Linked DNA regions of Homo sapiens. The protein of the gene in region 1 purifies or fractionates together with the protein of each later gene. This does not show direct contact. Each region holds a gene or a part of one and is shown in the gene's direction. Other genes may lie near its edges.

What was found. The genes of interacting proteins can lie anywhere in the genome.
Region 2: the proteins of SLC22A1 (region 1) and RAB38 purify together in Homo sapiens (affinity purification with mass spectrometry; one large-scale study listed by BioGRID and IntAct). This does not show direct contact.

Annotation. Positions count from the first base shown.
Region 1 is NC_000006.12:160,120,415-160,124,614, forward strand, and holds the start of SLC22A1 (solute carrier family 22 member 1), read left to right. Parts: upstream 1-1,400; 5' UTR 1,401-1,521; coding exon 1,522-1,932; intron 1,933-4,200. UniProt on the Homo sapiens protein: Electrogenic voltage-dependent transporter that mediates the transport of a variety of organic cations such as endogenous bioactive amines, cationic drugs and xenobiotics. Functions as a pH- and Na(+)-independent, bidirectional transporter.
Region 2 is NC_000011.10:88,112,751-88,116,443, reverse strand, and holds the end of RAB38 (ras-related protein Rab-38), read left to right. Parts: intron 1-2,303; coding exon 2,304-2,456; 3' UTR 2,457-3,193; downstream 3,194-3,693. UniProt on the Homo sapiens protein: The small GTPases Rab are key regulators of intracellular membrane trafficking, from the formation of transport vesicles to their fusion with membranes.

The DNA of each region.
Region 1 (4,200 bases):
TTTACCCTTACATTAGTCTATTAATGTCAACCCCAATTAAAAAAAATAAAACCTTACAGAGAAATCCATCCAATCTTAATCAGTTTGATCATGAACTGAGATTGTTATAAATCTTTTATAACCTTTTACAAATTTTTTTTGTTAAACAGCATGTAAGTGCTTCAAGAAAACCTTGTTGTGCTTGTATTCCATTGTTCAACTTATGGAAAACCAAATAATATCCTTTTTAGTGTAGTCAATATGTTTACACACAGGATTCCTTTTACAAGATTAATTTTTTACAAACCTTCCATAACTTGTTTGAACCTTAAGCTTTATCTTATATAATTTAAAACAATCATTTAACCCTCTGAACTAGGCAAAAATTTACATTCCCATGCCTTCTTATATTATTTTACTAATGATACATTTTACTCTCCTTACTCACCTCACGTGTAGATCTGTTTTCAGTAGTCATCACTACATGTTATAATGGTAGCTCTTAGTAATTGTTAATTTTGGTGAAATACCCAGTAAGTTATTTTAGTTACGTACTTAGGTGCAGATGAGGTCTAACTATTTCCAGCATAGCTAGGGCAGGCCCTACCAAACTGCAAAGCAGGAAAGTTGAACAATTTTCAAAAGCCAAAGCAGTTTATGACCTTAAAGCATTTAGTCAACCTAGTTTCTGACTTGCATAATTTAGACCATGTCTATATTTTGAAGACATTTCTATTTTCATTTTACTGATAATTTAAAAGACAGCCTATTTAGCAAAGTCATACTTAAGTGAATTTGAAAATTGCTTAGACTTATTTACTTAATTTATGAACACTCTTTTACTTATAAGCCAATTTGGTAGACACAACATATAACAGTAAGTGTACATACAAGTAAACACATCTAGACATGTATACACACACACAAATGAAGAGGTGGAGCTTAAAACACCCAAATTGGGTGCAGTGTATACTGCTTGGGAGATGGATGCACCAAAATCTCACAAATCACCACTAAAGAACCTGCTCATGTAACCAAATAATACCTGTTCCCTCAAAACCTATGGGAAAAAAAAACTAAAAAAAATACTTAAATGGTATCACAGAACTAATTAGCCGAATACAGTATCTAGTACCTGGCTGTCACCCAATACTTGCCTCATACCATCACATCTAGAAAACAAGTAGATATTCTTTTTGGAAGAGCCCTGAGGGAGCTACTAGGAGGTTTGCACGGCCTGCTCTCCTGCCCTCTTCTTGCTCTGTGGCTGAACTTCAATTCTCTTCGGGCTTAGACCCCACTGACTCGCTCCCGGGCAAAGCAAACGATTTGATCAGATGGCCACGTGCATTCTTCCTTTTCCTGAAACCAGCACCATAGGGTAAAAGATTATTTCTACTTGGTTGCCTTCCAGATGTTTCACACTTGGACAGCAAACTGATTTCAAACCACTCCTTTTCAAAGATCTCTGAGGGAGACATTGCACCTGGCCACTGCAGCCCAGAGCAGGTCTGGCCACGGCCATGAGCATGCTGAGCCATCATGCCCACCGTGGATGACATTCTGGAGCAGGTTGGGGAGTCTGGCTGGTTCCAGAAGCAAGCCTTCCTCATCTTATGCCTGCTGTCGGCTGCCTTTGCGCCCATCTGTGTGGGCATCGTCTTCCTGGGTTTCACACCTGACCACCACTGCCAGAGTCCTGGGGTGGCTGAGCTGAGCCAGCGCTGTGGCTGGAGCCCTGCGGAGGAGCTGAACTATACAGTGCCAGGCCTGGGGCCCGCGGGCGAGGCCTTCCTTGGCCAGTGCAGGCGCTATGAAGTGGACTGGAACCAGAGCGCCCTCAGCTGTGTAGACCCCCTGGCTAGCCTGGCCACCAACAGGAGCCACCTGCCGCTGGGTCCCTGCCAGGATGGCTGGGTGTATGACACGCCCGGCTCTTCCATCGTCACTGAGGTAAAAAAGCCTCTGTAACATGGGAGTTCCTGGGACAGGGAGAAATATAAAGCAAATCCTATGAAGTTCAGTTCCATATCAGGAAAGAGGTAGGGGGCTATGTTTATTGTGCAGTTCGTGGGTGTCTGGCTGTGTCCCAGGCACGGGGCATTCTCTTCTCTAGTTTAATCCACCACAAACTCTGGGTCTTTGAGGAGGAAGCTGAGGCAGGAGAGAACAGCTAGCACAAGTCGGGGGCCAGGTTGCCAGGTTGCTTGAATGGGAGTTGACTGGGAGACCAGGAGCCTCTCTGCCTGCCCCACTGGCTTCTCCCAGAACTATCAACTTGCTCTGGGTCCCGCTTCCCCACCAATAGTACTGTGGGCCCCCTCCTTCTGCTCAAGAGTGATGACGATTGACCTCAATGATGGTGTTGAGGTGGCCTGGAATTGCCCTGGCTTGGAAGTGAGAATATTTGGTGGAATCCCAGCTGTGCCCCTTATTAGCTGAGCATCACTGGGTAAGTCACTGCCTCTCTAAGCCTCATTTCCTCATCAGTCAACCAGGGATGATGACGGCTGCCTCATAGGGGTGTGAGCTTCAGCTGGGATCTGTGAAAGCACTGAGCAAATCCAAACTGAGTCACACCGTGCAGTCCGATGGGGCCCATGGGATAGGGCGATGGCCTCAAAAGGGCCTTGCTTGAGTAGTTTACTTGGTTATTTGAGCATTTTGCTTTGAGAATCCTTTAGTAAAAAGTGTCACCACATTTTTTTCCCATCATGAGCCCTTTTGAAACTATTGCACGGTAACAAGTGTGGATGCTTGGTGGGTTGGAGAAGCTGTGGGCCAAAGCCCGTCAGGGGCCTTCTGTTAGTAACGAGCAGTGGCGTGGTTTTGGTGCAGGCACTGCTTCCCTGAAATAAGAGGTAACTGGGCCCTCCCTGCCTCTGGTCCTGCCCACTTGTCTGCCCCCACTACCCTCGCCCAAGCTCTCCGGACTTCTTGGGTCTCTGTTCTTCCTCTTTTCCCTTTCCTGAGTGGTATCAGCGGTGACACATTTAGGGCTATTACTGGAGGAAAGCTTAGGGTCCCTCCCCTCTGGGCCTGAGCATTGCTCTACCTGCTTGCCTGGAGCAGAGCAGGTGCCGGTGCAACTGGCTTTACGATGCTGAAGAGACATCTTGTCTCCAAGGCATCCTCCAACAATGGATGACAAGTTAGGCAGCCCACCTTCCAGGGATCTCCAACCATCTGACATTCCCACTGGGAATCTAGAAGCAGACCAGGATGAGGATGTGTTTGCTCTCTGGGACTGAGACATACTCTGCTTTGAGGAGATCAGATGTGATCATTCCTCCAGTCAGACATCCACCCAGTATGTTCGGCATACTCCCTCTATTCTGGCACTGGGTGTGATGCCGCAGGGGAGATGCAGAAGAAGATTGTGAGGTCCCTCAAGGAGTCTGCAGTCTTGTGGGGACTGAGAGGGGAAGAGGATGGCAAGAATGAGACCAGTGTTCGTTTAATGACAGCCCAAGGCCGCCTGTGGTGAATGCCATGAGCAGGGCGGAAAGGGACTGGTGGGCTCTAAGAAGGTAGAGATCTCAGCTGCTGAGCTCTGAGCTGATCATAGACGTCTTCTGGGAGGAGGTGGCTTTGAGCTGAGCCTCAGCTGGTATTTGGACCAGCAAGGAGAGGGGACAGGTGGAGTAGAGGGGAGGGGAAGTAGATCCCCAGACCAAGGGGAGAGCTTGAGCCTAGGCTCAGGGCCCAGGGAGTGTTTGCTGCATTCAGGGTGCAAGGAGCACTGATATGAGGGTCATGATATGAGGAGTTGTGGGGAGAACACTGGTGTCTAACCTTGGGGCCAGAACACGGAGTGCTTAGTGTGGGGTTGCCAGGTACAATACAGGATGCCCAGTTAAACTCGAACATTTGAACTTCAGATAATCCAACTGGATAGGATACTTACTTCCCAGATACTGCATGATATTTGGTACTGATAACTGAGACTGGAAATGCAAATATTGCATGAACATACTTATCCTAAAAAAAAAAAAGTTGTTTATCTGAAATTCAAATTTACCTGGGCATTCTGTATTTTTATTTGTGAACCCTGGCAACGCTACCTTAGTGCCCAACAAAGGAGTTTGGGTCTTATTTAGGCAGGCAAGCAAGGTGACCCTAGCTGGACTCGTGAATGGGTGGGAAGGGGCGGTGGTGGGATTGGAGGCTTCAGGAGAGGTAGAGAGATGCATGAGGAGGCCAAGAGTGAGCCCCGGTAAG
Region 2 (3,693 bases), on another chromosome or scaffold:
TTTGGGGTATAATTTTGTTGCCTCCTTCTCCAACACACAAACAATAGCCAAATGGGAATCAAAGTATTGGCTTATTAATGGCCAGGCAAGTACGTTAAAACCATTCAAATAGGGCTTCTTTAATGAGATGTGATGGCTCTTAAGTGGAAGTCTGGGCGAGGAGACCCCTTTTTACCTTCCTGAATGGGACACAGTAGGGGACCATCGGACAGGCTTCCACTCAGTCACATAGCAAGTGGCAGGGCTCCGGAACAAAGTGTTGAGCTGGGTCCGTTCCAAAAAGCAAGGCCCTGCCTAGGTCAGTTGGTTGCCTGGGAGCAGGGAGTTCAGGTGTGACCCTTAGACGTGACACTAAGAAGAGGAAGAGTGGCAGAAGACATGCTAAGCACAGGCAATGACTTTAAGGCACAGGAAGTTGCCCAACAGGGGATGGGGCAGAAGCATTGCTGTTCTCTCAGGACTGGATTCCATAGAGTGAGGAAGATACTTGAGCTGAAGGAAGAAATGCCATCCCCACCCTTACCCCAACAATAATAACAAAATCCATATGGACAAAAAACATAATCTTTATCTTAAAGGGTGTTAAATGGGATTAAATAAGATTACTTACTTACTATTGAAGTCCCTAGCAAGTTCACATTGTGAAAGCAATAATGTCTGCTGCACTCTGTCAAGGGAAGCAAATTTTTATTAGGTAAGTGTTATCATCAAGACCATTTTATAGCTGGGGAAAGGGAGGCTTAGAGAAAGGAAGACTGGTCTGGTAAAAAGCAACAACAATAATATAATAAGCAAAAAAGCAATCACACTTTTACCTTGTGTTTTGGATTTAGAAAGCCTGGGAAACATTTTCTTTAAGGCTCTCTAGAGAGGAGATAAATAATTAGGCTATACTTGTCTGGAACTCCAAAGTTACCTTAAGCTTTCATAGCTGGTGAACTCAGTTTCAGGCTTGAAGGATGGAGAACCTGCTAATAAACATTTACAACTAAGGTCATTAGTCATGGATGCCATTTGGAAGCCAACAGTACTTCTTATATTTTCCAAGTAATATGACTCCATTCAATGATCTCAAAATATATCAACAACTTTGACATACATGCAAAAATCAGGGATAAGTATTTCCACTTCAGATTGGACAACAAGGTTCTGTAGTAAAACATTTTAACAACGAGAAAGCCTTGTCTCTTTAAGTATGAAGAAATACATCAAAGAAGTTCTACAAATTGTGATTAAAAACAATCAAATTTAACTTTATTGCAGATCTTTAACTACTTTTTACCTAATCAAAGATATTTATTTTAGTACACTGGTAGTATATTTTCTATATGTCTTAGGTTTCTGACCAGCAGGAACAAAAAAAGCAGTTTAACTTATACTACTGACATATTTTAGATTCAAATGTTTGCTCCATATTTTTTCCAAATTCAAGTTTATTTCATTTTTGAACCTAAACTTATATTTCCAGTTTTACTTTTTTCCTTGAGGAGTTATATCCATCTGGAATGTCTAGATAATGCCAGGGTTTATTTGGGGTAATAACCTCAAATCTCAGTGGGTTAAAATAGCAAAGATCATCATTCTCATGCACACTACATAGCATGGGCTGATTGGGATACTTGCCTCTACTTGATTCTCACTCACAGACCTTATCCAAAAGAGTTTCCATTGCTGTGCTTCCACAGGGAGAAACAGAAAAAACAGGAAACTGAGCACTGGCTCTTATTGCTCCTATATGAAAGTGACACACATTACTTCTCACATTTTGACGCCCAACAAGTCACATGTCCATGGCTAAGTTCAAAGAGGTCAGAACAGTGTACTCTTCCCCATTTCACTAGAATATAGAGACCCAGAAATATCTGTGAAACCATTAATGCATACTATAAAAGATGTCTTATCATTCTTATTTTATATCAAGGTCACAAAAATAGTATGTGGCAGAGGGCAATTATAAATCTAAGTCAGATTAAAGGTTTATGTTTCTTCTACAATATTTTTATAGTTTGAGTATGTGAAAATGTGAAAATAAGAAAATTGCCCTCTAACTGAAATTTAACCTACTAAGTACATTTACCAGACACCATTCCTCCTATATGACATAGCAAAATAAATACTTCTTTTTTGAGGAACCAAACAGTAAAGTTCTTTGAAGGAACAAATAAGAGTGAGGGAAACAGGAGGGGGATGCATATGTAGCATATAGGAAGGAATATTTAAATGAATTGTCACATATAAGTCTCTGCTCTAGCATTATTTCAGAGTATTGAATAAGAAAAGCTGTTTTATTTTTTCCCTCATAGGAAAATATAAACATTGATGAAGCCTCCAGATGCCTGGTGAAACACATACTTGCAAATGAGTGTGACCTAATGGAGTCTATTGAGCCGGACGTCGTGAAGCCCCATCTCACATCAACCAAGGTTGCCAGCTGCTCTGGCTGTGCCAAATCCTAGTAGGCACCTTTGCTGGTGTCTGGTAGGAATGACCTCATTGTTCCACAAATTGTGCCTCTATTTTTACCATTTTGGGTAAACGTCAGGATAGAGATACCACATGTGGCAAGCCAAAGATCTATGCCTCTGTTTTTTCAGTGAGAGAGAAATAGCAAATGTTCTTTCTATGCTTTCCTCACCATCATCACAGTGTTTACAAACTTTTGAAAATATTTAGTCTGTTACAAACTTCTGTCATGTAGCTGACCAAAATCCTGCAGGGCCACAGTCGGCACTGTTATTTGCTTCTTTTAATCAGCAAAGGCCTCAAGTCTTAAAATAAAAGGGGAGAAGAACAAACTAGCTGTCAAGTCAAGGACTGGCTTTCACCTTGCCCTGGTGTCTTTTTCCAGATTTCAGTATATTCTCTGATGGCCTGACAGGCCTATTAAGTAGATGTGATATTTTCTCCCAAGATGACCTCCATTCTCGGCAGACCTAAGAGTTGCCTCTGAGTTAGCTCTTTGGAATCGTGAACACAGGTGTGCTATATTGTCCTTGTCCTAACTGTCACTTGCCATGGCCTGAATGTTGGCTTAACTGAATATTGTATGAAAAGACATGCCTCCATATGTGCCTTTCTGTTAGCTTTCTCTGACTCAAGCTGTGGGGCTCCTCTATACATGCTATACATGTAATATATATTATATATATTTTTGCAAGTGAACAATAAAACATTAAAAGATGCTGTTTCCCTATTTATGAAAGTGCTTTAAGTTTCTTAGTGTTGTGAAGGGATTTTTTTTTTTTTCGGACAAAGTAAACAGGGTTCTCAAGATCCATTTCTAAAATTTTATTTCAAGGAGGAGATGAGAAATGTATGCTTAAAGAAACTGCTGGACACTATTAAAACTGGGATGAGTCTATGCCATCTGCATTTACTGTTCATATTGACATTTAGGCTACAGAGTGTACAGTGCATATACATATTTTTAGTTAATCAGAGGAATATGTCCTCATAGATTCTGATTAAGAAAGGTGCCAGATCAATCAACATAAAAAGAAACAATAAAATATGCATTGTGACACCTTGGTTTACACAGTGGTTGTGGTGCTGACACGTGCAGGTAGCTATTATTTTTTAATGTCATTATTTCATATTAATATTTGTAATACACTCACAGGAGTCGTATATACATATATATATATATATATTTTGTTGTTGTTGTTGTTGTTGAGACGGAGTCTTGCTATGTCA